Homo sapiens: one gene and its partners. The protein of the gene in region 1 interacts with the protein of each later gene in a biochemical or structural test. Each region holds a gene or a part of one and is shown on either strand. Other genes may lie near its edges. The genes, in order: RGS12, APBA2, ITGB3, DGKK, PDLIM1, GRIP1 and TJP3.

Region 1 (3,500 bases):
CAGTCAGCTTCTGGAGGCTGGAGGAGAGCCGTTCACCCCCCTGGTCAGCTTCTGGGGGCTGGAGGAAAACTGCCCCCCTGGTCAGCTTCTGGGGGCTGGCCTCATTCCTTGGCTCCCGGCTCCTGCCCTGCCTCCATTGTCACATCGCTGTCTTTCTCCTCCTCTTTATTTTCTCCTTTTAGAGACAGGGTCTCACTTTGTTGCCCAGGTGGAGTGCGGTGGCACAATCATAGCTCACTACAGCCTTGAACTCCTGGCTCAAGCCATCCTCCTGCCTCAGCCTCTTGAGTAGCTGGGACCCCAGGCATGTGCCACCATGCCCAGCTAATTTTTTCTGTTTTTTTTTTTTGGTAGAGATGGGGTCTCACTATGTTGCCCAGGCTGATCTTGAACTCTTAGCCTCAAGTGATCCTCCTGCCTTAGCTTCTCAAAGGGTTGGGATTGCAGGCACGAGCCACCGCGCCTAGCTTCTGTCTTCTTCTGCCATGTTCAAATTTCCAGGATAATCTCCTTGTCCTGGGAGCCTTAGTTTACTCACATCTGCAGATCCGTATTGCCGTATGGCTTTCACAGTCCCAGGGATTAGGGCCTGGATATCTTTGGGGATCGCTATTCAGCCTACAGCAGGCTCCTCACTTGTCTTCGAAATGACTTCACTTTTCCCATTGTGTGCGAGGAGCACCCGTCTCATGCCTCTTCTCTGGGATGGGCAGGGTTTGTCCAGGGAAGGTCCCTGTGGTTTCACTTCCCTGCCCTTGGGGAGAGGCGGGAGCCATCCTGGAAACAGGTGTCCTGGGAAGGAAGACAAGCCTTGCTCAGGATGCAAGCCCCAGTCATGAGAGGTTGTGGGAGGTCACTCATGCTGTGCCTTTTTAGGAGGTGGGGTCGTTACCAGTTCCAAACTGGATACTCCACACAGTGCTCATGCAGTTTTACCTGTGGTTTTGGGGGCCACCGTTGCAGAAGTTGCCTAGATTCTTCCATGAAGGAGCCTCTTGCCTCGGGCTCCGGGCAAGGAACTCTTGTGTTAGAAGTTCCCTTCTTCTGTGTCTTTTAAGGTCTGGACTTCAGTGAAAGAGAAAAGAAACATCTAGTTTGTTCTTTCTGTTTTTCTTTTCTTTCTGCTTTTCCATGCACTTGCTGTCCCCAACTCTGTAATCATGGTGATACCCGATACGCATACACACTCTACTCACATATCTTTTCCTACATCTTTGTGTCCCTTAGCAGTGATCTTAGTTGTCCTTCCAGCATGCCTGAAAAAGGGCTGAGTCTGTGGATTGAAGCGTCCAGTTGTAGGCATTCTCCTGCCCTGCCTGGCCGCAGCCCCCAGAGGCGGGATCCTAAGTGGTCTGTTTTCTCAGGCATTTACTGCTGTTGAAGCTGCTCCTTTAAAGCTTAAGACATTCTTTTTTTATTTCTCCCAAAGGCCGTGGGGAGGTTTAGCTCTCCTCTGTCCCACCAGCCTCCCTGTCCCTCTATGTGCCATCATAATCACTGCATTTTTGGTGAAATCGACAGTCCTTGCTCTTGTGTGACTGTAAGCATTGCTCATTACTGCGCCAAGGAGTGCCCTGAGCACAGGTCCTCTCGCACAGCCCTGTGGATTAGCATCTTCTAGTCACCCACCTATCAAAATGGTTTGTTTTTCATTGCATCCAGGACACTAGCCCCATCCCCACCCCTTTGGGATTGGAGCCTTCTCCCTGCTCTCGTTTGCCCTGGTCTCCAGGAGACCTGCTGCGCCGCTGTCACCTGCATTTCCCGCTGCTGTCCTCCATCTGTGGGGCTCCCTGTGCACTGGGTCCTGCTCTTCTCTCTCTGCTTGGCTCACTCCTCGTTTTGCTGAAGTCCTACTCTTTTGATACCTAAGAAACATCACATAGGTATTTTTTTTGGTCCTTGATTTAGAAAACATCTTTATTTTACTCTCCAATTACCTTTTAACTTAGCTGGGTATAAAATTTTAGACAATGATTTTTTCGGAATTTTGAAAATGTTGCTTCATTGCATTTGGTTTCTGTGCTGTTGAGGTCTGACGCCATTCTGATTTCAGTTCTTCTGTGTGTGATCTCTCCTGCCTCAAGCTCATAGAAGCGGCTCTTTTCCCTCAGTGTTCTGAGAAGCCCGATAATGGCATCTGCTTCCGTTTATTGTGCTGGGCACTCCGTGGGCCCTTTCAGTCTGAGGATAGAAGTTTTTAAATTTCAAAGATAATTTTCTTTCAGTTTTGCTGTTTTCTCTTTCTGGAACTTTTATTTGGAGGTTGGACCTCCTAGGTTGATCCTCTAATTCTCTTTTTTCTCATCTTGTTGATCTCTTTGATGTTTGTTCAATTTTTTTTTTAAGAGACGGAGTCTCACTCTTTTGCCCAGGCTGGAGTGCAGTGGTGCAGTCATAGCTCGCTGCAGCCCCAAACTCCTGGGCTCAAGCGATCCCCCTGCCTCAACCTCCTGAGTAGCTGGGAACACAAGCATGCACCCCCACAACTGGCAATTTTTACTTTTCATTTTATTTTTTCATAGTCTCGTCATGTTGCCCCTTTGCTGTTTCTAAGAAGTCAGTCACTCTGGTAGCTGCGTTGCTCCTTTATGTTATATGATGAGGTGCTTTCAAGCTCCTCCTGGGATTTTTGGCTTCCAGCAGTTTGATTGTGATGTTCTTAGGAGGGTTTGCTTTGTATTTGTCCTGCTCAGGGTTTGTTGAACTTCTTGGATATGTAATTTTTCACCATCTTCAAACTGCTATTAAGTTTCGTGCATTTTAAAATTTCAGTTACAGTAGTTTTTATTTCTAGAATTTTCACTTATTTTTTATGGTTGCCATTTCTCTGCTCTGTCATTTGTTTATTGTGATCATACTGTCATTAAATCTTTGAACACATACTAGCGGCTTTAATGTTCTTTTCTGCTAATTTCAACACCTGCATTACCTCAGGATCAATTTCTATTGGCTTCTTCCAACTATGGGCCACATCTTCCTGTTTCTTTGAACATCTAGTGTTATTTGATGGTGTACTGGACATTGTAGATGGTAACTGTAGTGACTTCTTTTTTCTGAAGAGTGTTGATTTTTGTTCTGGAAGTTAATTTGTCTGGACTCAAATGAAAATCTCTGCTGCAGTCTCTGCTTGGTGCTGTTGACCTTCCGGCTGCCTCCTTCTGCTGGACTCTGGGGTCTCTCTGTGCATGGATGGCTCACCACTGGCCAGGACCTAGGCAGAATTTACTAACAGATCTCACGACTGCCTCTTCCCCAGTGACCTCCTTTCTGAGATATGCCCCTCACTGTTCAGCCACCCAGCCCTCCCCAAGCCCTATCTTGGACTCTTCAAGCTGGGAGGATCACAACTTCTACCTGTGCTCTAGCCATTTTTAGAAACACTTGTTTTAGTTGGTGCAGCTCTCTCCTTTCAGGGGACAACTCCCCTCCACTTTCTGCCTGCTTTTCATAGCTCTCCAGGACCTCCCAGAGTTGGTTTTTGTGTCTTGTGTCTGGTT
Region 2 (2,921 bases), on another chromosome or scaffold:
AAGAAAGGTAAGTGCTGGCAGAGCTGCCAGAATTGTCACTCTAGACAGGCTGCAAAGGACCCACAGGTGCAGACAGGGTGCTGGGATGGGCGGTCCGGCTTTTACACACGCACACGCATGCACACCTTTCCCAGGGGCCATTTACGTTGAAATCTGAAGAAGCCCAAGGCTCCCTGGCTCCCTCATTCCATTAGTGAGTGCTCTGCGGACGTGTCTCCCTGCTGGGGCAAGTGGGTCAAGAACCTGGCGCTGACCCCGTGACCTGGTAGCATTGCTGGCACCTCCAGTTGCAGCGGGGCGTTGCCCAGCTGACACCTGGTGCCCAGAGCACCCACCCACCGAACTCATTAGTGACAGCTTCCAAGGTTCAGGATCCAGGAGGAGCACAGAGCAGCTGTGGCTGCCACCGCATAGTGAATTTGCAGAGCCGCATCCAAGCTGTGAATGAAAGGACAGGCGGGCACCCGCCGCTGAGGTAACAGACCAGTCACACACACGGCTTTTCATCACGACTTCAGGTTTATTAGTGATATGCGCGAAGTCTTCCTACGGGTAGCTGCATGCAACACACGGCACTCCTCGAATACAGTCATCCTAAAGCTTTAGTTACTGCGTGGTAAGGCTTCTTAAGTCACAGTGTATTCTTCAAGGCCTGGGCCAAAAAAAGAGACTTCGAGACAAGATGACGTCAGATTACATGGATCGCTAATGAACCGAGCTGGACTAGATCCGACTTGATCTACACACATGCCACTACTGCTCAGGGCCACTGCGCCACGCTGGCCAAGGGGTCTGCACTCACGGCTGGCTGCTTTAGGTGCGGCCAAGGTCGCGTTTTCTAGAGTGGGTTTCGTTTCCTCGGGGTCGCATGTGCGTGGATGTGTGTAGATCGATTTTAAAGAGGGGGCAGACACCTGTGCCCTCCTTGTCTCTGTGGGAGCCCTGCCCGGGTATGCAGCCGGGTGGGAGGGTGCCCAGAAGAGACGACGGGAGAGGCAGGTGTGGTCATTAGTCACATTGGAAAACCCTAGAGTCTGGAAAAAAGCCTGCCAAAATAAAAGTCCAAACAGTAATAATAGCATCTAAATAAATATGGAGTTTTCATGTTGTGGCCATCATCCTTTATTTACAATCAATCAATCAATCACATGTCCCCAAACTTTCATTACAAGTCGTGTCCTGGGAGCCAGGCTGCCCGTGTCCCTGCAGTCAGTGGCAGAGGCAGCTGTTTGGGACCATTGTGGGGGCCCCACAGGACCCCAGACGTCCCAGCCAAGGGGGCGGGAGGCAGGGGTGACGGCTGCCCTGCCCCGGGAGCCGCGTCCCTCGGAGGCGCCAGTTCGCTCCGCACAGCTTCAGGGAGGAAAGACACACACTCCACACCACGCACAGCTACCGAGACACACCCTGGCTTGTGCAGGGAGAAGACAGTCCAGAACGTGGCAAAATACTTGGAACGCTTTACAAACAAACATTTGTTCTGTGACTCTCCTTTGATAAAGACATACCCCTTTTTGGCAAAATGAAAAAAATCAAGTGGGTGGTGAGGGCACACCCTTTGGGGAGCCAGCGTCCGTGGCTGGGCTGTGGCGTCGGGGTCAAGTCTGCGGCCCGGCTCCCAGCTCCTCTGGGCCCGGGCGGCCCTGCCCGGTGTCCTGGCTGCGTGGCCAGGCTGGGGTGGCCTAGATGTACAGCGGGGTCTCCTGACCCGTGAGGAGCCTGAACATGGCGGCGGGCATGGTCTTCATGTGGATCTGCGGACAGAAACAGGAGGCTGAGCCGCTGCCCTCCCACCTCCCCTCCCACAATCAGGTGAAAGCAAAGGACAGAGGCAAACCCCCCAGAGTTCTGCTTCAAATGCCCATCTCCTAGAGTGAAGGAGGAAGGCCAGCCTGCCCAGGCCTGGGGACACTTATGATGCCTTCCAGATGCAGCAGACTGAGACTCCAGGTCCCCACCCCTGGCTCCAGAGGAGTCAATACAGTTGAGTGCTAGTTTTGCTTCCAGTCCAGCTGACACCCGAGGGGTGAGAAATTGGACTTCTAGTGGTGACAACAGTTTGCCCATCCACTGGGGCTGGCTGGGGGTGGCCAGGCCTCGGCAGAAACTGCGAGGGATGCACTCTGCTTCACTGAGGAGGAGCTCAATGGGGGAAGACACACGCACCCCTTCTTTTTTTTTTTTTTTTGAGACGGAGTCTTGCTCTGTCGCCCAGGCTGGAGTGCAGTGGTGCAATCTCGGCTCACTGCAAGCTCTGCCCCCCGGGTTCATGTCATTCTCCTGCCTCAGCCTCCTCAGTAGCTGGGATTACAGGTGCCCGCCACCACACCCAGCGAATTTTTTTGTATTTTTTAGCAGAGACGGGGTTTCACCGTGTTAGCCAGGATGGTCTCAATCTCCCGACCTCGTGATACGCCCGCCTCGGCCTCCCAAAGTGCTGGGATTACAGGCCTGAGCCACCGCGCCCGGCCTACACCCCTTCTTACAAAACACACACGGGCCAGGAAAGTGTGCTGGGGGCTGGGAACAGGCTCGCTGGGGCCCAGGGCACCTCAAGTTCTTAGCCTTTGGGGATCGGTGAGCAAATGACCCTTTGGGGCCTGGCCTCGAGCCCTGACTCCAAAGGAGCTGGGTATACAAGCAAGGCCTCAGACCGCCCCAGGGAGACCAACCGTGTGGGTGGCGCGCCTTGTAATCCTTCTTTGCGGACACTGGGAAGGAGCAGACTCTAAACGTCTGCTTCAAGAACGGAAAGGGAGCTCTACTGCCCACTTCTCCTCTCCTGAGCACGACGCTCTCCCCTGTCCTGCCCGGGACTGTGCTAGGCTGCGGCCTCCGGATGGGGGGCCCTCGCACTGCCAGGGTCAGCTGCCGCAGGCATGCTGGCCTCCCCACGGGGTGCAGCCGCCGTGCATCTGCCC
Region 3 (3,500 bases), on another chromosome or scaffold:
ATAGGCATAAACCACCATGCCTGGCCATGGTTAGTGCTTGGCCAGATTAGATGAAAACAAATTAATAATTATTTGAGCAAAAGCTTTCCTCTGTGTTCTGAATTGCACCTGATACATTTCTGTCCCTTGTCCACATCTCCTATCACTGTCACAGGGAATGGAAAATAGGAGAAGGGCAAAAGAGACGGGGACACAGGGGTGAAATAGGAGAGGTTCTATCCCCGAATGCTGTGGAATCACTGAAGAGTGATAGGCTGAATATAGCTCCTTAGAAATAGTGGCAGGGAACAGGTGTGGTGGCTCATGCCTGTAATTCCAGCACTTTGGGAGGCTGAGGCAGGTGGATCGCTTGAGCTCAGGAGTTTGAGACCAGCCTGGGCAACATGAAGAAACCCCATCTCTACAAAAAAATGCAAAAATTAGCCAGACATGGTGGTGTGTGCCTGTAGTCCCAGCTACTTGGGAGGCTGAGGTGGGAGGATGTCTTGAGTCAGGGGAGGTGGAGGTTTCAGTAAGCCGAGATTGTGCCACTGCACTCCAGCCTGGGCAACAAAATGAGACCCTGTCTGAAAAAAAAAAAAAAAAAAAGAAACGGTGGCAGGATGGCATTCTACCTCATCTCCTCCTGTTATTTCCTATCAATTCCCATGCCAAGAACTAAAGTGTGAGCAAAATGAACATTATTCTGTTTCATTGATGATGTATTCCAGAGAACGGTGCCTTGGGAAAACTTCTGAGATGAATTTTAAACATTCAGGGTAGGGAAGGACTTAAGGAAGTCACTGTAAGATGCTATTCTGTTTCCTCCACAGGCCAACAACCCACTGTATAAAGAGGCCACGTCTACCTTCACCAATATCACGTACCGGGGCACTTAATGATAAGCAGTCATCCTCAGATCATTATCAGCCTGTGCCACGATTGCAGGAGTCCCTGCCATCATGTTTACAGAGGACAGTATTTGTGGGGAGGGATTTGGGGCTCAGAGTGGGGTAGGTTGGGAGAATGTCAGTATGTGGAAGTGTGGGTCTGTGTGTGTGTATGTGGGGGTCTGTGTGTTTATGTGTGTGTGTTGTGTGTGGGAGTGTGTAATTTAAAATTGTGATGTGTCCTGATAAGCTGAGCTCCTTAGCCTTTGTCCCAGAATGCCTCCTGCAGGGATTCTTCCTGCTTAGCTTGAGGGTGACTATGGAGCTGAGCAGGTGTTCTTCATTACCTCAGTGAGAAGCCAGCTTTCCTCATCAGGCCATTGTCCCTGAAGAGAAGGGCAGGGCTGAGGCCTCTCATTCCAGAGGAAGGGACACCAAGCCTTGGCTCTACCCTGAGTTCATAAATTTATGGTTCTCAGGCCTGACTCTCAGCAGCTATGGTAGGAACTGCTGGGCTTGGCAGCCCGGGTCATCTGTACCTCTGCCTCCTTTCCCCTCCCTCAGGCCGAAGGAGGAGTCAGGGAGAGCTGAACTATTAGAGCTGCCTGTGCCTTTTGCCATCCCCTCAACCCAGCTATGGTTCTCTCGCAAGGGAAGTCCTTGCAAGCTAATTCTTTGACCTGTTGGGAGTGAGGATGTCTGGGCCACTCAGGGGTCATTCATGGCCTGGGGGATGTACCAGCATCTCCCAGTTCATAATCACAACCCTTCAGATTTGCCTTATTGGCAGCTCTACTCTGGAGGTTTGTTTAGAAGAAGTGTGTCACCCTTAGGCCAGCACCATCTCTTTACCTCCTAATTCCACACCCTCACTGCTGTAGACATTTGCTATGAGCTGGGGATGTCTCTCATGACCAAATGCTTTTCCTCAAAGGGAGAGAGTGCTATTGTAGAGCCAGAGGTCTGGCCCTATGCTTCCGGCCTCCTGTCCCTCATCCATAGCACCTCCACATACCTGGCCCTGTGCCTTGGTGTGCTGTATCCATCCATGGGGCTGATTGTATTTACCTTCTACCTCTTGGCTGCCTTGTGAAGGAATTATTCCCATGAGTTGGCTGGGAATAAGTGCCAGGATGGAATGATGGGTCAGTTGTATCAGCACGTGTGGCCTGTTCTTCTATGGGTTGGACAACCTCATTTTAACTCAGTCTTTAATCTGAGAGGCCACAGTGCAATTTTATTTTATTTTTCTCATGATGAGGTTTTCTTAACTTAAAAGAACATGTATATAAACATGCTTGCATTATATTTGTAAATTTATGTGATGGCAAAGAAGGAGAGCATAGGAAACCACACAGACTTGGGCAGGGTACAGACACTCCCACTTGGCATCATTCACAGCAAGTCACTGGCCAGTGGCTGGATCTGTGAGGGGCTCTCTCATGATAGAAGGCTATGGGGATAGATGTGTGGACACATTGGACCTTTCCTGAGGAAGAGGGACTGTTCTTTTGTCCCAGAAAAGCAGTGGCTCCATTGGTGTTGACATACATCCAACATTAAAAGCCACCCCCAAATGCCCAAGAAAAAAAGAAAGACTTATCAACATTTGTTCCATGAGCAGAAAACTGGAGCTCTGGCCTCAGTGTTACAGCTAAATAATCTTTAATTAAGGCAAGTCACTTTCTTCTTCTTAAAGCTGTTTTCTAGTTTGAGAAATGATGGGATTTTAGCAGCCAGTCTTGAAGGTCTCTTTCAGTATCAACATTCTAAGATGCTGGGACTTACTGTGTCATCAAATGTGCGGTTAAGATTCTCTGGGATATTGATACTGTTTGTGTTTTTAGTTGGGAGATCTGAGAGACCTGGCTTTGGCAAGAGCAGATGTCATTCCATATCACCTTTCTCAATGAAAGTCTCATTCTATCCTCTCTCCAAACCCGTTTTCCAACATTTGTTAATAGTTACGTCTCTCCTGATGTAGCACTTAAGCTTCATTTAGTTATTATTTCTTTCTTCACTTTGCACACATTTGCATCCACATATTAGGGAAGAGGAATCCATAAGTAGCTGAAATATCTATTCTGTATTATTGTGTTAACATTGAGAATAAGCCTTGGAATTAGATATGGGGCAATGACTGAGCCCTGTCTCACCCATGGATTACTCCTTACTGTAGGGAATGGCAGTATGGTAGAGGGATAAATAGGGGGCGGGGAGGGATAGTCATGGATCCAAGAAGTCCTTAGAAATAGTGGCAGGGAACAGGTGTGGAAGCTCATGCCTGTAATTATAACCTTCAGCTACTAAGACAGGTGTGGTGGCTCACGCCTGTGATTATAATCTTCAGTTACTAAGACAGAGTCCATGAGAGTGTTAATGGGACATTTTCTTTAGATAAGATGTTTTATATGAAGAAACTGTATCAAAGGGGGAAGAAAATGTATTTAACAGGTGAATCAAATCAGGAATCTTGTCTGAGCTACTGGAATGAAGTTCACAGGTCTTGAAGACCAATATTATTTGTCAATATGTGGGGATAACCTGTAGCTGCATTCATGAGGTAGCAAATAGCAGTTTTGGCCTGTGGGGTGAACAGCTAAACAGTGTTCTGGCATCAGATAACACGGC
Region 4 (3,954 bases), on another chromosome or scaffold:
TGGCTTAACAGGTAGTCTTCTCAAATTTTAATTACAATTGGTAATATATTGGCGTCTAAAGTCTAGGTCTGACTAAGATGATGGTTTGTGTGTATGTGTACGTGACTATAACAGAAAGAGCTTCTAAAGTCTTCCGATGTGGTGGGAAAGGTGCTGCGCTAGGCATCAGTCGTTCTCTTCCCAAGAGAATCTCCCATCTCTAATGTCAGACTGCTTCAGGAGGTGAAAAGGGTGTGGGTGTTGCAGTGAATTTCCCCAGCCCAAGACACACACACACACACACACAGACACACACACACACGCGCGCGCGCGCGCGCGTTAACAAGTTTGGGGGGGGCGGAAAAACAAACTCCTGCTGATGGCTGGGAAATCCAGCTAAAAGCACAAGGCAGGCTCCTATAGCATAGGCGAGCCAGACAGACGCCCAGATAGCCTCAGCTCCCGAGCGCGAAGCCCAGCTGCTGCCGGGGCACTCTCGACTTGCTCTCGGGGAGGCTGCAGGCTGCGGAAAGCCGGGGCGCCAGCCTCCCTCATCACACTCCTTTCCCGAATCACCTCAAACTCTGTACCCAACGGCAAAGCTCAGAAATGCAAAAAACCGAAGAGGGTCAAATTGTACTTCAATCCAAAGGAGGCTGAACACCCGCCCCCCCCGCACCCCCCCCCCCCACCACACACACACCATGCCGCTTAATTTCTTTTCCCGGCTTAGATAAAAAGCATTACTTGCCCATCGAGGCTTGGAGATGGGGGGCAAGAGGTTGGTCCGAGGCTAAGCTCACCTGCTGCTGAGGTGAGAGAGCAGACACAGGATGGAAGCTATTCTGACCAGCAGCTAAGTGGTTGGGGGATTGCAAAGACCCTCAACTTCGCCTCTGGCTTTTTTTTTTCATTCGTGTCACTAAAGGGTTAAACACGGCAAGGCTCCAGCCCGCCCCCCAACCTCCACGCCGCTCCACTCCCCCTCCCCTTTTTGTCTCTCCCCTCCCCTCCCGCGCGTCGCTAGGAGGTCATCAAGCGCTCTGCCCAGTCCGCGTTCGCAAGCCCCTCTGCTTCCCGCCCATCGGACCCGTGGCTGCTTACGAAGAGGTGTGCGCACACTGAGGGGCGTGTTCCAGCATAGGGAGACGCTGAGCGCCCACGGGTTAGACCTCAGAGCCAAGCCAGCCATGGAGTGGGATGGGGGAAAGTTTGGCACCCTGCGAGGGGCTGCCGGACTGGAGTGGGCGGGGCGCCCGAGGGTACTTTAGCCTTCCAGGCTTAGGGACTCAGGCTGCCCAGACCTGAAGCGGTGTGCGGCCATGGACCGCGGAGCTGCCGCAGCCCAGGGCACTGCCCCGCCTCAGGATGGAGAGCAGCCCGCTGAGTCTCCAGAGCCTCCGCCGCCTTGGCCGCCGCCGCCACCACCACCGGCTCCGCCGCCGGCTCCGCCGCTGCTCTCCGAGGCTTCGCCAGAACCCATACCAGAGCCCTGTCCAGAGCTTGCTCCAGGTCCCTGTCCAGAGGCGACCTCAGAATCAGCCACAGAACTGTACACAGAACCGACCCCAGAACCAGCCACAGAGCCGGCCTCAGAACCGGCCCCAGAACCTGCCACAGAGCCGGCCCCAGAACCTGCCACAGAGCCGGCCCCAGAACCGGCCCCAGAACCTGCCACAGAGTCTGCCCCAGAGCCGACTCCAGAACCTGCCCTAGAGTCGGTCCCAGAGCCGGCCCCAGAGCTGACTCCAGAAGTTGCCCCAGAGCTGGCCCCAGAGCCGACCCCAGAACCTGTGACAGAGCTGGCCCCAGAGTTCTGCCCTGAGGCGGCTCCAGAGTTCCGTCCAAGTCCAGCACCATGTCTATTGCAATGTCCGGTGGACACTCGAGAGAGAGGTCTAAAGACCTCGCCATCGCCATCGCCATCGCCATCGCCCAGAACGCCAATGTCGTGGTCCAGAATAAAGGTAAGCAAAAGACCCCCTGAAGCGGGGAAAAGAAGCAAGGCGAAGTCAGATGGCTATGGAGCCCGCGGGACTCCGGGTACCCCTTGCATCCCGCTTGTCTGGCACTGGCTGGCCAAGATGCTGAGAAAGATGCAGGGATGGGGAACCCGGGGGAATGGGAAGGGGTTGGGAGGCGGGAAGCAACATGTGGGAATCGAGAATGGGCTGTTTGGGGCTAGAAACGGGGGTGACAGCAGGGGGTGGGAATCGGAGCAGTTTTCCCCTTGAAGAGAAGCGACAGTGCGGTGAGCGCCAATATCTTGAAAGAGAGGAGGAAGATACCCTCGGGGAGCGCAAGAGACCTGGAGAAGTGTTTGGGGCTGGCCCCGAATACATAGCGGACGGATTGAGTGGGGGCGGTGGGACACACCTCTTAGCCGCGGTCACTGCCGCAGAGGCCCAAGCTGCGGAGCCTTCGCCTGCTTGGCCCCCTCCCTGCCACTGGGGAGGGGGCGCCTCAGCTGGGCGCAACTGGCGGCCCTCCAGGGAGGTGCCCGGCGCCTCTGCCGGCTGCTTCGAGCTGGTACTCCTGGTGAGGACGAGGGGATGGGCGGCGCCCACGCGCACTGCAGGGGAAGGGCAGGGTTCTCCGGGAGGAGGGGGAGAGCATGCGTGTGTCGAAGCCACCATTCCATCTGTCTGCAGGATTTCCCAGCAGGTAGGTGCAAACGCAGTGATACAATGTTGCGCAGCGTCACAAACGGGGCAACTGGCATCCCGCACCAGGGCCAATTGGAATGGTACAGGAGTCCTGGTTTAGAGACACGAAAATAGGAGTTGGGATTGCAGAACGTGTGAAGGGGAACCTTCATCTCTACCAGTCTACCGCGACGCCTTCTAAATCGTTACACTTAGCCGGGAAAAGATGAGTGGAGAATCTTCTGGCACTCGCCCAAGGGGAGTAGGGAGGAAAAAGGTTTTCGTGTTTACCTTGGACCCTGAAACCCCGTCTGCTCTTAAGCGGGAGTATGCCTGTCTTTCCTGCTTTCTCTGCACTCTCCCTACTCTTCCTTTACCCTAAACTTCGTTCCACAAAACTGAAAACCAGGATAATGCACACACACACCTCAATTTAGCTTCCCCTGCAGGAAGACATACACACGCGCGCGCATTCACACACACACACACACACACACAAACGAATAACACAACACACGAACAATACCGGTCCATCCTGCTGCCTAGCAGACCATAAGGACACGGCTCAGGAACCCTTCTGCTGTGGACCGCACACTTATAGAATGTAGAATGCGGGAGGGGAGGGGGCAGATTGGCATCACGAAATGGAAGCATTGGTTGCTTCCTGAGTTCTTAGTAGGGAGGCTTGAGTTTGCAAAATATCTGCAATGACGAATAACTGAAAAAGAAGGCTAAAATGAAAAGTTTCACAGAGAAAAGAAAGTGCAGAGGTTTAAAAATAAATAAAACATGACGGTGGGAGACTCTGATAAGTTTTTAAAAATTCAACACCCTAGCTCTCACCAGGGGATGTATCCCTCCCCTTCCTGAAAATACCCTTTCCTGCAGTGATCTTAAGAAGGGCAAAGTTGGGGTGGCTAGATTTGGGAGCTCACCCTCACCGGGTGATTGATCTTGTCTTTTTGGAAGAGTTTGCATTAAGCTGGTGGGAAAGAGACAAGCAGGAATCACCTGACCTGTGGCCATCTTAAGCGAAATTTTGGGAACATGGCTGTGAAACTGACACGTGGGGACGTAATACCCAGAGAATGCATCTCCCCTTTGGCCTCTGAAAGGCTGACTGGCGACCAGGACCCTTCCCCCAGTGAAAAGCATCCCCTGCTCCCATGCGAAAGCATCTCCTACCTGTTTGACAGGAAAATGTCATTGCCAGACAGATGAGGAAGATTAAGGTAAGGGGAATCAGATTAGTTTCCTCTACGTAGTGCCCACTCAGACGTGCTGGCTAGCTGACCCACAGACATCTGGCAACACTGGCAGGAGACCAGGA
Region 5 (3,500 bases), on another chromosome or scaffold:
TTACCACCTAAATTAGGTATCCCAAATACCATAGCTTAATTTTGCCTGTTTCTGAACAGACTCATACAGAACACGTGTGTGTGTGTGTGAACAGCTTCTTTAGCTCCTTAATGTTTTCATCTAGTATCGTTATCAACTTAAAATTTCAACCCAGGTTTCCAACTTTAAGTGGACATAGGCTAGCTTCTTTTACCCACATTCTCGTTTAGTGCTCTTGCCTTGTGTTCCCTGATGATCCAGCCACACATTTGCCACTGTTCTCTGATATTTTTTTCTGTCAGTTCCTGCTTCAAATCAACACTTGCCCATTTCCTTGAGGTATTTTTTTAATTAAAAAAATTTTCCATGTTAATTTCTCCTTCCCTCTAGTTACTTTCAAGGGAAGCCTTCAGAGAAATACCCAGGCCAACATTGCAACTCAGTTTATGTTGACTGTTTTTCTCTCCCAGCAACTGATAAAAGACAGGAAAGGGTGAGGCCAAGATCAAGGGATGCCCTTAGTTGGAGGAGTTGCTCATTTGTCTCTGGAGTCCTGGGGAACCCTTTGCTAAGAGCTGAGCGGTTCTGTGGCAAATGCTTATGCTTTTTCTCAAGTATCCCAAGGGATGCTTAATAATGGTTACTGTGGCCAGAGGGTCATTTCTGATTTTTAAGAGTGGTATTTCCGGATTCAGATAGATTTTACATCATGTCGTAAAGATTGAAAGAGAAGGGTTTGTCTGTCAGATTATGAAAAGCAGGAAATGTCCAAAAAGGGTCATTATGTTTTAATGGCCATTGTGCTGCATGCCCTTGGTCTGTGAAATTGATACCTGGGAAATATTAGCGACTTCAGCTGCTCACAGCTGACTTAAGGAGAGAGGGGGAAGAGGACAAACCAAAGAGAATGACATGTAAGTGAATGCCTGAGCCCATACTACATTATCACCCTCTGACCAGATAGTCTCCCCTCCCTAAACTCCTGATGCCAACCTTGCTGGTTTGTTTGAGGAGGCAAGAGGGAAGAACAGTGGCTTTAGGGTATTGCAGCCAGGTAGATGACTGAGAGGAGAGTGTCATCTAAGCGTCTGGGTCATATTCTCCTAGGCTGACCAGGACTGGGAAAAGCACCAAGGAATTGCTGTGTACTGGGATCAGGATAGGACTGGCACATTCTTAGGCCATGCCTTAACTCTTGCTCCACAGAGGAGAGGAAAGCTAGCATTCTTTGCCTTTTGCAAACAGAAAAGCTCAGGTGCTCACAGGTTAGGTAATTTGGTTGAATTTACATAATTTCTCACTGGCTGACTTACTACTCAACTTCCTTGTAAAGGATAGGATAGAGACTGGAGCAAAAGTGGTTGTGTCAGAAAACTAACTTTTAAAGGATTATTTCGCTTCCAGTAGGTCTCAGAGGAAAGCCTGGGGGAAGCTTCCAGGACTTTAATTGAGGGCCTGGTACAATGTCCAGGGCAGGGACTCAAGCTGAGCTCTAGTCCGGAGCACCTTGGTGGGTGATCCTGGGAAAATCATATGTCTTCTCCTGGGTTCAGTTCCCTGTAAAGATAAAATAAAATAATATTCCCTGTAAAGATAAAATAAAATAATAAGCAAGCAAACCCAGAGGTTTTCATACCCTTTGAATATGAGAGCTACTTTTTTTTTTTTGAGACAGGGTGTCGCTCTGTTGCCCAGGCTAGAGTTCAGTGGCATGATCTCGGCTCACTGCAACCTCCACCCCCTGGGTTCAAGCGATTCTTGTGCCTCAGCCTCCTGAGTAGCTGGGATCACAGGCATGAGCCACCACATGTGGCTAATTTTTGTATTTTTAGTAGAGATGGGGTTTCGCCATGTTGGCCAGGCTTGTCTCAAACTCCTGGCCTCAAGTGACCTGCCCACCTTAGCCTCCCAAAGTGCTGGGATTACAGGCATGAGCCAAGAGCCCACTTTTTTATTGTTAGAGTGTCCTAGTCTCTCATGGCATTAGTTGTACCTTCAATCATAAGTTGATTTAGAAAACACTGTGATTTCAGGAATGTTTCAGATGTATTTGTCTTCTGTTAATCACAGCAGCATCCATTTACATTTGAAAGATTTGTGTGAGAAATATTTATTTGATCTGCTTGCAGTAATAACCATAGTTAAAACATATATAGGACTTTTAATATGCCAGGCACCATTCTAAGACCATAATATATTCAGTGATCTTCACACGTATTTTGTGAGGTAGGATTAAGATCCCCATTTTACAGATGAGGGAACTGAGGCTTGGAGACCTTAAGTACACTGCCTGCATCATATAGCAGTGAGTGGTAGAGCTGGAGTTTGGCTGGGGAGTCCGGCTTCCAAGCCTGTAGTCTTAATCTCTATGTCATAGTAATATATTAATAACAGCTAACATTTTTTGAGTGCCTGCTCTGTGCTAAGCATGCACTTACATTATCTTCTTCTGTATTCCCCACAACCCATGACAGAGGGACACAGAACACAAAGTCAGACAATTGCAGAGCTGGGAAGTGAAGCCAGGCAGACTCACTTCCAGGCCAGCTTTAACCACTATATTCTGCCTCCTAATAAGCCATAACTGTCAATATTTCATTGCTAACAGTGTTAACCCAGCACACAGCTCTGAAAAGTGCTAAGGGTGGTGCAGGCTTCAACATGAGGGATAAGACACTCCTGGGCTCCACACCCTGGAGCCTCTCATTCTCCTGAGGTTGGTTGGGGTGGCTCTCCAGTTGCCTTGTGGCCTCAGCTCAGAGCACCTCAGAAAGCAGCACCTCCCTTCCCTGTCCCTCCTGAAAAACTGAAAGTCATGGCCCCACCTGGGAGAATTTACAGTCCAGTTATGAGGTTCCATGCCCACTTGGACAGTGAAGAACAAGAGCAGAGGAGTGGAAGGACTGGCTAGAGAAAGACCTGCTTGTGGGGGATAGGAGGGCATTTGGGAATGGTTCTTGTGGTAGATGAAGATGACCAGGCAGTGAACAGTTCCACCTTGCGGTAGCCAAGCTAAGTCCAAAACCGAATATACCCATGAAACCTAAGACAAAAAAGGTAATTCCTGTATGGCTGTTAGCACCCTGTGTGATTATTGATACTCTTGTTAGCCACATCCTGGGCAAATTGGGCTGCTCATCCGTGGCTGAGTTCTGTGGTGCACTTTCCCATGTGTAATACACTGTCTCCTTGGTAAATGCCATAAATACTAAAAATGATTTTGTGAAGAACACAGCGGTCTTGTAGGAGGCCAGATTCCTTACTGAACACTCAGGGACTAATTTTTATAGACACGACCATTCGTATCAAGTAAGACAATAAGAACATAGATAGGACCTAGTTTAGATAAAGATATTGAAAATGCATACAGAGGCTGGGCTTGGTGGCTTATGTCTGTAATCCCAGCACTTTGGGAGGCCAAGGTGGGTGAATCACCTGAGGTCAGGAGTTTGAGGCCAGCCTGGCCAACATGGTGAAACCCTGTCTCTACTAAAAATTCAAAAATTAGCCAGGCGTAGTGG
Region 6 (3,500 bases), on another chromosome or scaffold:
TTGTTTACTCTAATTCATCTTCCAAAGTCTTTTTTCTAAGCCACACATAATTTGCTTGAAACCCTAACATCGAGGAAAAAATTTTCAGGCTAGTGCTATTTGATATTTTTTTCTTAAAAAAGTCTTTGGTGCAAATTGAATGTGCAGACAAGGAAAATAATTTGACTTCCTGGTATACATTTTGAATTTCCAGCCTAGATGAAGGCCAATGAAGGCAAATAGTAAAGCTCTCACTTAAAAATAAATAAGTAAAGTGGATTTTAATAGCAGAACCTTCAAATATTTGGCAGGAATCAGAGGGAACCAGTTATATGAAGCCTTGGTTTACAATATATTATGTCTTTTGCCAGTGGAGTTTTTTTCTTAGGATAGAGAACAACCTGTCTGAGCAAACATCTTGTCTGGGAGAATCAGAATATTTAACTCCATTTATTCAATAGAAAGTGTCAGCTGAAGGTATCTGTATTTTGACTCCCTTGAAATTCACAGATACATTTGCTGGGTGTTTATACCATCTACCTAGGCACCTTTAGGCAAAACCTGGTATGAGAAAGGGGTCTTTGAGCCCCAAATCAAATGAAGTCAAGTTTTCCAGTAGGATATTTGTTCCGACTCCCTCTCCTGCCCTATTCCTTAAAGCAAACACCATTCCTTTGTACTCCTTGAAATTAGAGGCCTCACTAGTATTGTCAGGGTGGCCTGAAGGAGGATAATGCATTTCTGTATATTTAGACACAGTGCAGTTTTCTCTGAAATTGAAATTTTGCTTATGAGGGGGTCATTTGTATTGTGTCTCCCACCTTTTAAAATGCACTACACTTCTCCACAGTCTGGGGCGGGGGGAAAGAGGGACCAGATAATTTTCATACTAAATCAGTCAGCTGGATGCAACCTTTTTAATTAAATGGAGCTTAGACAGCCCTGAAGCTAATGAAAATCTCTAGTACAACATTACCCTTATCAGATTTTAATTTTACACATTGGAGTAGAGAAATGATGCAGCATAGGCAGGTTATGAAAAGAAAATCAGCATCACAGTATTGGAATAGCAATGCAAACAGCTGTAGGAAGGTGCCGTTCACAAGGATGCACACCATTCCTATCAGGAGGCCCCGTGGGCCCTTCCTGCACTCTGGCAGAGAGGAGAGATTTCTGAAGCTGTTTAAGTTTCTTTAAATTAATCGGCAGTCATCATTGGATTTGGAGCACAGTAGCCATAAGAATGTACACTGTGTAGTGCTCTCTCAGCATGGGGTTTTGCTTGCTAAATTCTGGTATCAGCGAATCGGAAATGCATACCAGACCCTTTTAAAATGTTAGCATCTTTAGTAATCTCTTTTATTTTTCTTTAATTGGCCCTATATACAATTCATAAATAATTCAAGTGTTTTCAACTCATGGAATATTAAATTTTTTAACCTGCCAAGGCAATTTGAGTTTAATTTATACACTAAAATATATGGACTAAGCACAAATTTTTTGCCTTTATTGTGGAAAACCTGATGTCGTTTGTGTTGCAGGGATAGGAAACTGATAGGAAGTTTAAGTAATTCTAGCTTCCACTTCTGACTCCATCGTCTACGTTTACTGAAAGTTGTTCACTGTCTTTCTTATCAAGCAGGTGTTTCCGTTATATTGCACATTAAAATCAGACTTGGATTTCCAAGAGGAAATAAATTTTGGCTCCTAAACATAATTAAATCATAGTAAAGAAGAAAAACAAACAAAAAATTATTATTGTGTTTACAATTCTCAAATTTTTGACTAGTGGAGTTTTACATAGTTTTACCCTTTCTCCACAAGAAAGTTCTGATTGTTTTTTCAAGATCTCTGATGCCTGAACAGTGTGTCTCTCAACACACTTCCCAAATTTCCAGATTGTGTTAGCAGTAAAGCATATACCACAGAGTTTTCAGGCCAGTGTGGAAATGAATATCTCAACTTGGGATAAGAGATTAGCTATGCCTTTCACTGATAAATAGCAGCATTAAAGAAGCTGACAGAAATGAGTTTTCAGTGAGGTTAGAAATTTTTCCCACTGAGGGTTTTCAGGAGACATAATTGGATTGAAGGAAACTGACGTTTTGGAAAGGAAAATGTGACCAGAGTCACTAGACTCGACACATTCAGTACCAGGAGGACCTTCCATTTGAGAGCTCCAGGGCAACCTGGAACCACTGTGGTCTGCTCTCTCGAACATCCTGAACAGAGTAAGAGGCTGCAATTAGAGAAAGAAGAAAGAAAAGTAACTTCTGTGGCCATATATCTCTTGAGACTGCAGTAGTGACGTCACCATGGAATGATACAAGAACCATAATATTTTAAATGTGTTGTTTTCTTATCCATAACAAGGGACTTAGACATACCCATAGGAAGAGGCGGTATGTCTGGTGGTTGAAGCGGGGACTTTAGGATCACGTGTCCAGAGCTTCACCTCTGACTCCACCACGTGGGGTCTTAAGCAAGTTACCCAACTTTTCTATACCTCAGTTGCTTCATCTGTAAAATGGGGGTCATAATAATACTTGCCTCAAAGGAATATTGTGAACATTGTCTGAGCTAATCCATGAAAAAGCACCTAGCACAGTGCCTAGTATATAATAAGTAATCAGTGAAAGTAGGCTACAATTATTGGCTTTATTAAATGAGAGAATGTCTATAAGTGCTCTTTGCAAAATGACAGGACATGCCAAAAATGTAACATCTTATTATTAAACTTTGGAAATACTTGCCTATCAAGTACACCACTGTAAAACAGAAAACATTTGGAGTGTACATTCAAAATAGGCAGCAGCTCTCTTCTCTGGCCTACATTATTTGTTCAACACCTTTTGCATTCATCATCCATGGCATACAGTTTTGTGCATTATCTTATATCATTTTTGTCTCTTAATTATTTTATATGTATGAAGATTTAATCCCCAGTAGTAATTCAAAGTCAAGGTAAATGGTATGACCTTTAACCTGCCTGTAGCAATTGGCACAGTCTGAGAAAGCAATAGCTGGTAAATAATATCTTCCTTATTGACTTATTAATTGTGCTGTACAGTCCTAACAAATGCCCAGTAATTTTCAAAGCTCTCAATGAAGAAGCGGGTCAAAAGGTGGGTGTAGAATCCCGAAGTGCATTCACCGTACCCTGGCTTCATTTGAAACACAGATGGTACTTTGTGAAAAGTACGCTAAAGTGTCGGTGGTTGTAAATTGGCCAAACACAGTAATAACTGCGTCTTGCTGAAATGTCTTCTTGTACACCCAAAGTAGAATGAGGATGGTGAGAGAGAATCCATTAGGGACATCTCCTGCAATAAATACTCTTTTGTCTCAAGGAAAATGCTGCTGCAGTGTTCACATGGACACTCTGGCTGATATTCCCGTTCATTCATGCATTTGTTTATTCATTCATTCATGTATTAGTCATTATATACCAGGCACTGTTCTAGTTGCTAGGATATATTTAGTGAGCAAGACAGGCAAAGTATATCCCTACTCTTATAGAA
Region 7 (3,500 bases), on another chromosome or scaffold:
CTCTACTAAAATTACAAAAATTAGCGGGATGTGGTAGCGTGTTCCTGTAATCCCAGCTACTCGGGAGGCTGAGGCAGGAGACTTGCTTGAACCCGGGAGGCAGAGGTTGCGGTGAGCCAAGATTGCGCCACTGCACTCCAGCCTGGGTGACAGAGTGAGACTCTGTCTCAAAAAGAAAGTAAGTGAGGTGAGGAGAAACCTTTGTGAGCCTGGCACTTTCCAGCTCTGTCAACACAGGGCTCGGACTTGGCAGTAGGACAGTGTCAGAGACTTGGGCCTCACTTCCCTAAGGTACTTCCTGGTCCTTCACAGGAATTCTTGGGGTCATAGTGGCCCCAGAGCCCTTTTGGAACATAAAGTCCTGGAAACCATCGAGTGTTTGAGGGTTTGATGCTTCTTGGAATTATGTTGTTAAAATGGTTCTGGGCCCCAAGTGGCTGACAGGTGATATGGCTCAGCCCAGCCCAGAATTAGGGACCACCAGGTTCAGAGAGAAAGAGCTAGAAAGAAAATATGAAATACAGACAGGAAGAGAGGGAAAGAAAAGCAGAAAGTGGGGATTTGTGGTGTGGGGAGCGAGGAGTGAGAAGATGCCAGGTGTAGCTGTAGCTTCAAGGCCGGGTGCAGTGGCTCACACCTGCAATCCCAGCACTTTGGGAGGCCGAGGTGGGCGGATTACCTGAGGTCAGGAGTTCAAAACCAGCCTGGCCAACATGGTGAAACCCCATCTCTACTAACAAATACAAAAATTAGACGGGTGTGGTGGCGGGCACCTGTAGTCCCAGCTACTAGGGAGGCTGAGGCAGAAGGATCGTTTGAAACGAGGAGGTGGAGGTTGCAGTGAGTTGAGATCATGCTACTGCAATCCAGCCTGGGCAACAGAGTGAGACTCTGTCTCAAAAAAAAAAAAAAAAATGTAGCTTCCACTCTATGATTATAGTAGGTTCTACAATTGGCTCCATTTTACAGGTGAGAAAACGGAGGCCCAGAAGGATAAATGTCTTTGTGAACCTAGGGACACCAATGAATTAGAACCAGGCCTTGTAGATCTGGAGGTTCCAGGGGCACCCCCTCCCCAGGGAGGGCTTGTTACGAGGGTCTCCCCTGCAAAGCCTCCTCCGTAAGACCCGCCCTCCTCTCTCAGGACAGGCGACCACATCGTCATGGTGAACGGGGTTTCCATGGAGAATGCCACCTCCGCGTTTGCCATTCAGATACTCAAGACCTGCACCAAGATGGCCAACATCGTGAGTAGGCAGCCCCTGGCATGGCCAGCATCTCTGACCCCAGCCTGGGTCGTGCCGCTGTGGGGGTTGTAAGCTTCTGAGAGCAAGGAGTCATCTTCTCATCTTACAGTTTGGACATTGAGGCCCAGAGAGAGACTGGTGTCCCCCAGGGCCACCCGGGGGCTGAGCAGAGCCTCCCCCAGCCCTTGCCTGTAGCTGACCCTTCCTGTCCCCTCCTCTAACAGACAGTGAAACGTCCCCGGAGGATCCACCTGCCCGCCACCAAAGCCAGCCCCTCCAGCCCAGGGCGCCAGGACTCGGATGAAGACGATGGGCCCCAGCGGGTGGAGGAGGTGGACCAGGGCCGGGGCTATGACGGCGACTCATCCAGTGGCTCCGGCCGCTCCTGGGACGAGCGCTCCCGCCGGCCGAGGCCTGGTCGCCGGGGCCGGGCCGGCAGCCATGGGCGTAGGAGCCCAGGTGGTGGCTCTGAGGCCAACGGGCTGGCCCTGGTGTCCGGCTTTAAGCGGCTGCCACGGCAGGACGTGCAGATGAAGCCTGTGAAGTCAGTGCTGGTGAAGAGGAGAGACAGCGAAGGTCAGAAGAGGCGGGAGGTCGGACACGATCAGTACTGGACACAGGGCACCGTGGTCGGATGGGCGACGGTTTCAAGTGATTCTCCTGCCTCAGCCTCCCTGGTGGCTGGGACTCCAGGCGCCCGCCACCATGCCTGGCTAATTTTTGTACTTTTGGTAGAGATGGGGCTTCACCATGTTGGCAAGGATGGTTTCGAATTCTTGACCTCAGGTGATTCACCCACCTCGGCCTCCCATAGTGCTTGCTGGGATTGTGGGCGTGAGCCACCGCGCCCAGCCTGGAAGCTACAACTACACCTGGCATCTTCTTGCTCCTCGCTCCCCCCACCACAAATCCCCACTTTCTGCTTTTCTGTCCCTTTCTGCCTGTCTGTATTTCATATATTCTCTCTAGCTCTTTCTCTCTGAACCTGGTGGTCCCTAATTCTGGGCTAGGTTGAGCCATATCACCTGTCAGCCACTTGGGGCCCAGAACCATTTTATCAACATGTCCCCGCGCTGATCCCCGGGACCTCTGTTTAGGCCACCTCACTTAGCAAGAGGGACTCAGCAGATGGGATGGAGTGAAGGACCCTGAGCTCAGAGGTGATCCTGGATGATCTGGGGGGCCCAGTGTCACCACAGGGTCCTTATAAGAGGAGGCCTGGCTGAGTGTGGTGGCTGATGCCTGTAATCCCAGCACTTTGGGAGGCCAAGGCAGGCAGATCACTTGAGGCCAGTAGTTCTAGACCAGCCTGACCACTATGATGAAACCCCATCTCTACTAGAAATACAAAAATTAGCCAGGCGTGGTGGTGTGCACCTGTAATCCCAGCTACCTGGGAGGCTGAGGCACGAGAATTGCTTAAACCCGGGAGGTAGAGGTTGCAGTGACCTGAGATTTTGCCACTGCACTCCAGCCCCGGCGATAGGAGTGAGACTCCTTCTCGAAAAAAATTAAAAAATAAAAAATAAAAATTGAAACAATGATGATGTTATGAGCAATAGAATGCCCTTAGCCTGTGCATGGCAACATCACGAGTGGCACGGTGACCTGGTGTCCCCGCCCCGTGGAGATGTCATTGACACAATCAGATCTCGGGTCCTACGGGCGACATCACTGTTCTCCTTATGATGCCATCAAGGTGTTAGGATGGGAGGGCCCGCACCTGGACTGCTTACAGCAGGAGAATGCTCCCAGGCACCCGTCTCCAGAGTCCTGCCTCAGTTTCCCTCCTCCCCCCTTACAGAGTTTGGCGTCAAGCTGGGCAGTCAGATCTTCATCAAGCACATTACAGATTCGGGCCTGGCTGCCCGGCACCGTGGGCTGCAGGAAGGAGATCTCATTCTACAGGTGAGGCCGGGCTTCTTGTCCTGAGAGCAGGGAGACAAGGCAGGGTTGGGGCGGGCAGTCCCACGGAGTCATACAGCAAGGACAGCAGAACTGGGCCCCAAAGCATTTACCTTCAGTGTTGTTGCTTGTATCTCAAAGGTTGCAGATGGCCAGGCATAAAACCCCCTTTTTCCCCAGCTACTACTAATCCACAGCCAAATGTCGGTTTCTAGTATCCCCATGGGGTTGTCTGTTTCTAATACCCTCTAGCTTTGATGTGCATCAGAGACTCATGTGGGCAGCTGACTCCTGGACCTACCCTAGGTGACTGGATGCTAATGACCCAGTCACCAGGTTTAGGGGAGC

What was found.
Region 2: the proteins of RGS12 (region 1) and APBA2 interact in a test that uses a peptide from one of them, tested with the Homo sapiens proteins (one large-scale study listed by IntAct).
Region 3: the proteins of RGS12 (region 1) and ITGB3 form a complex in vitro, tested with the Homo sapiens proteins (one study listed by IntAct).
Region 4: the proteins of RGS12 (region 1) and DGKK interact in a test that uses a peptide from one of them, tested with the Homo sapiens proteins (one large-scale study listed by IntAct).
Region 5: the proteins of RGS12 (region 1) and PDLIM1 interact in a test that uses a peptide from one of them, tested with the Homo sapiens proteins (one large-scale study listed by IntAct).
Region 6: the proteins of RGS12 (region 1) and GRIP1 interact in a test that uses a peptide from one of them, tested with the Homo sapiens proteins (one large-scale study listed by IntAct).
Region 7: the proteins of RGS12 (region 1) and TJP3 interact in a test that uses a peptide from one of them, tested with the Homo sapiens proteins (one large-scale study listed by IntAct).

What each region holds. Positions count from the first base shown.
Region 1 is NC_000004.12:3,296,021-3,299,520, forward strand, and holds part of RGS12 (regulator of G-protein signaling 12), read left to right. Parts: intron 1-3,500. UniProt on the Homo sapiens protein: Regulates G protein-coupled receptor signaling cascades. Inhibits signal transduction by increasing the GTPase activity of G protein alpha subunits, thereby driving them into their inactive GDP-bound form.
Region 2 is NC_000015.10:29,115,895-29,118,815, reverse strand, and holds the end of APBA2 (amyloid-beta A4 precursor protein-binding family A member 2), read right to left. Parts: intron 1,755-2,921; coding exon 1,683-1,754; 3' UTR 501-1,682; downstream 1-500. UniProt on the Homo sapiens protein: Putative function in synaptic vesicle exocytosis by binding to STXBP1, an essential component of the synaptic vesicle exocytotic machinery. May modulate processing of the amyloid-beta precursor protein (APP) and hence formation of APP-beta.
Region 3 is NC_000017.11:47,309,327-47,312,826, forward strand, and holds part of ITGB3 (integrin beta-3 precursor), read left to right. Parts: intron 1-812; coding exon 813-878; 3' UTR 879-3,500. UniProt on the Homo sapiens protein: Integrin alpha-V/beta-3 (ITGAV:ITGB3) is a receptor for cytotactin, fibronectin, laminin, matrix metalloproteinase-2, osteopontin, osteomodulin, prothrombin, thrombospondin, vitronectin and von Willebrand factor.
Region 4 is NC_000023.11:50,468,026-50,471,979, reverse strand, and holds the start of DGKK (diacylglycerol kinase kappa), read left to right. Parts: upstream 1-1,154; 5' UTR 1,155-1,301; coding exon 1,302-1,946; intron 1,947-3,954. UniProt on the Homo sapiens protein: Diacylglycerol kinase that converts diacylglycerol/DAG into phosphatidic acid/phosphatidate/PA and regulates the respective levels of these two bioactive lipids.
Region 5 is NC_000010.11:95,284,504-95,288,003, reverse strand, and holds part of PDLIM1 (PDZ and LIM domain protein 1), read left to right. Parts: intron 1-3,500. UniProt on the Homo sapiens protein: Cytoskeletal protein that may act as an adapter that brings other proteins (like kinases) to the cytoskeleton. Involved in assembly, disassembly and directioning of stress fibers in fibroblasts.
Region 6 is NC_000012.12:66,459,077-66,462,576, reverse strand, and holds part of GRIP1 (glutamate receptor-interacting protein 1), read left to right. Parts: intron 1-3,500. UniProt on the Homo sapiens protein: May play a role as a localized scaffold for the assembly of a multiprotein signaling complex and as mediator of the trafficking of its binding partners at specific subcellular location in neurons.
Region 7 is NC_000019.10:3,728,884-3,732,383, forward strand, and holds part of TJP3 (tight junction protein ZO-3), read left to right. Parts: intron 1-1,144; coding exon 1,145-1,247; intron 1,248-1,471; coding exon 1,472-1,823; intron 1,824-3,051; coding exon 3,052-3,155; intron 3,156-3,500. UniProt on the Homo sapiens protein: TJP1, TJP2, and TJP3 are closely related scaffolding proteins that link tight junction (TJ) transmembrane proteins such as claudins, junctional adhesion molecules, and occludin to the actin cytoskeleton.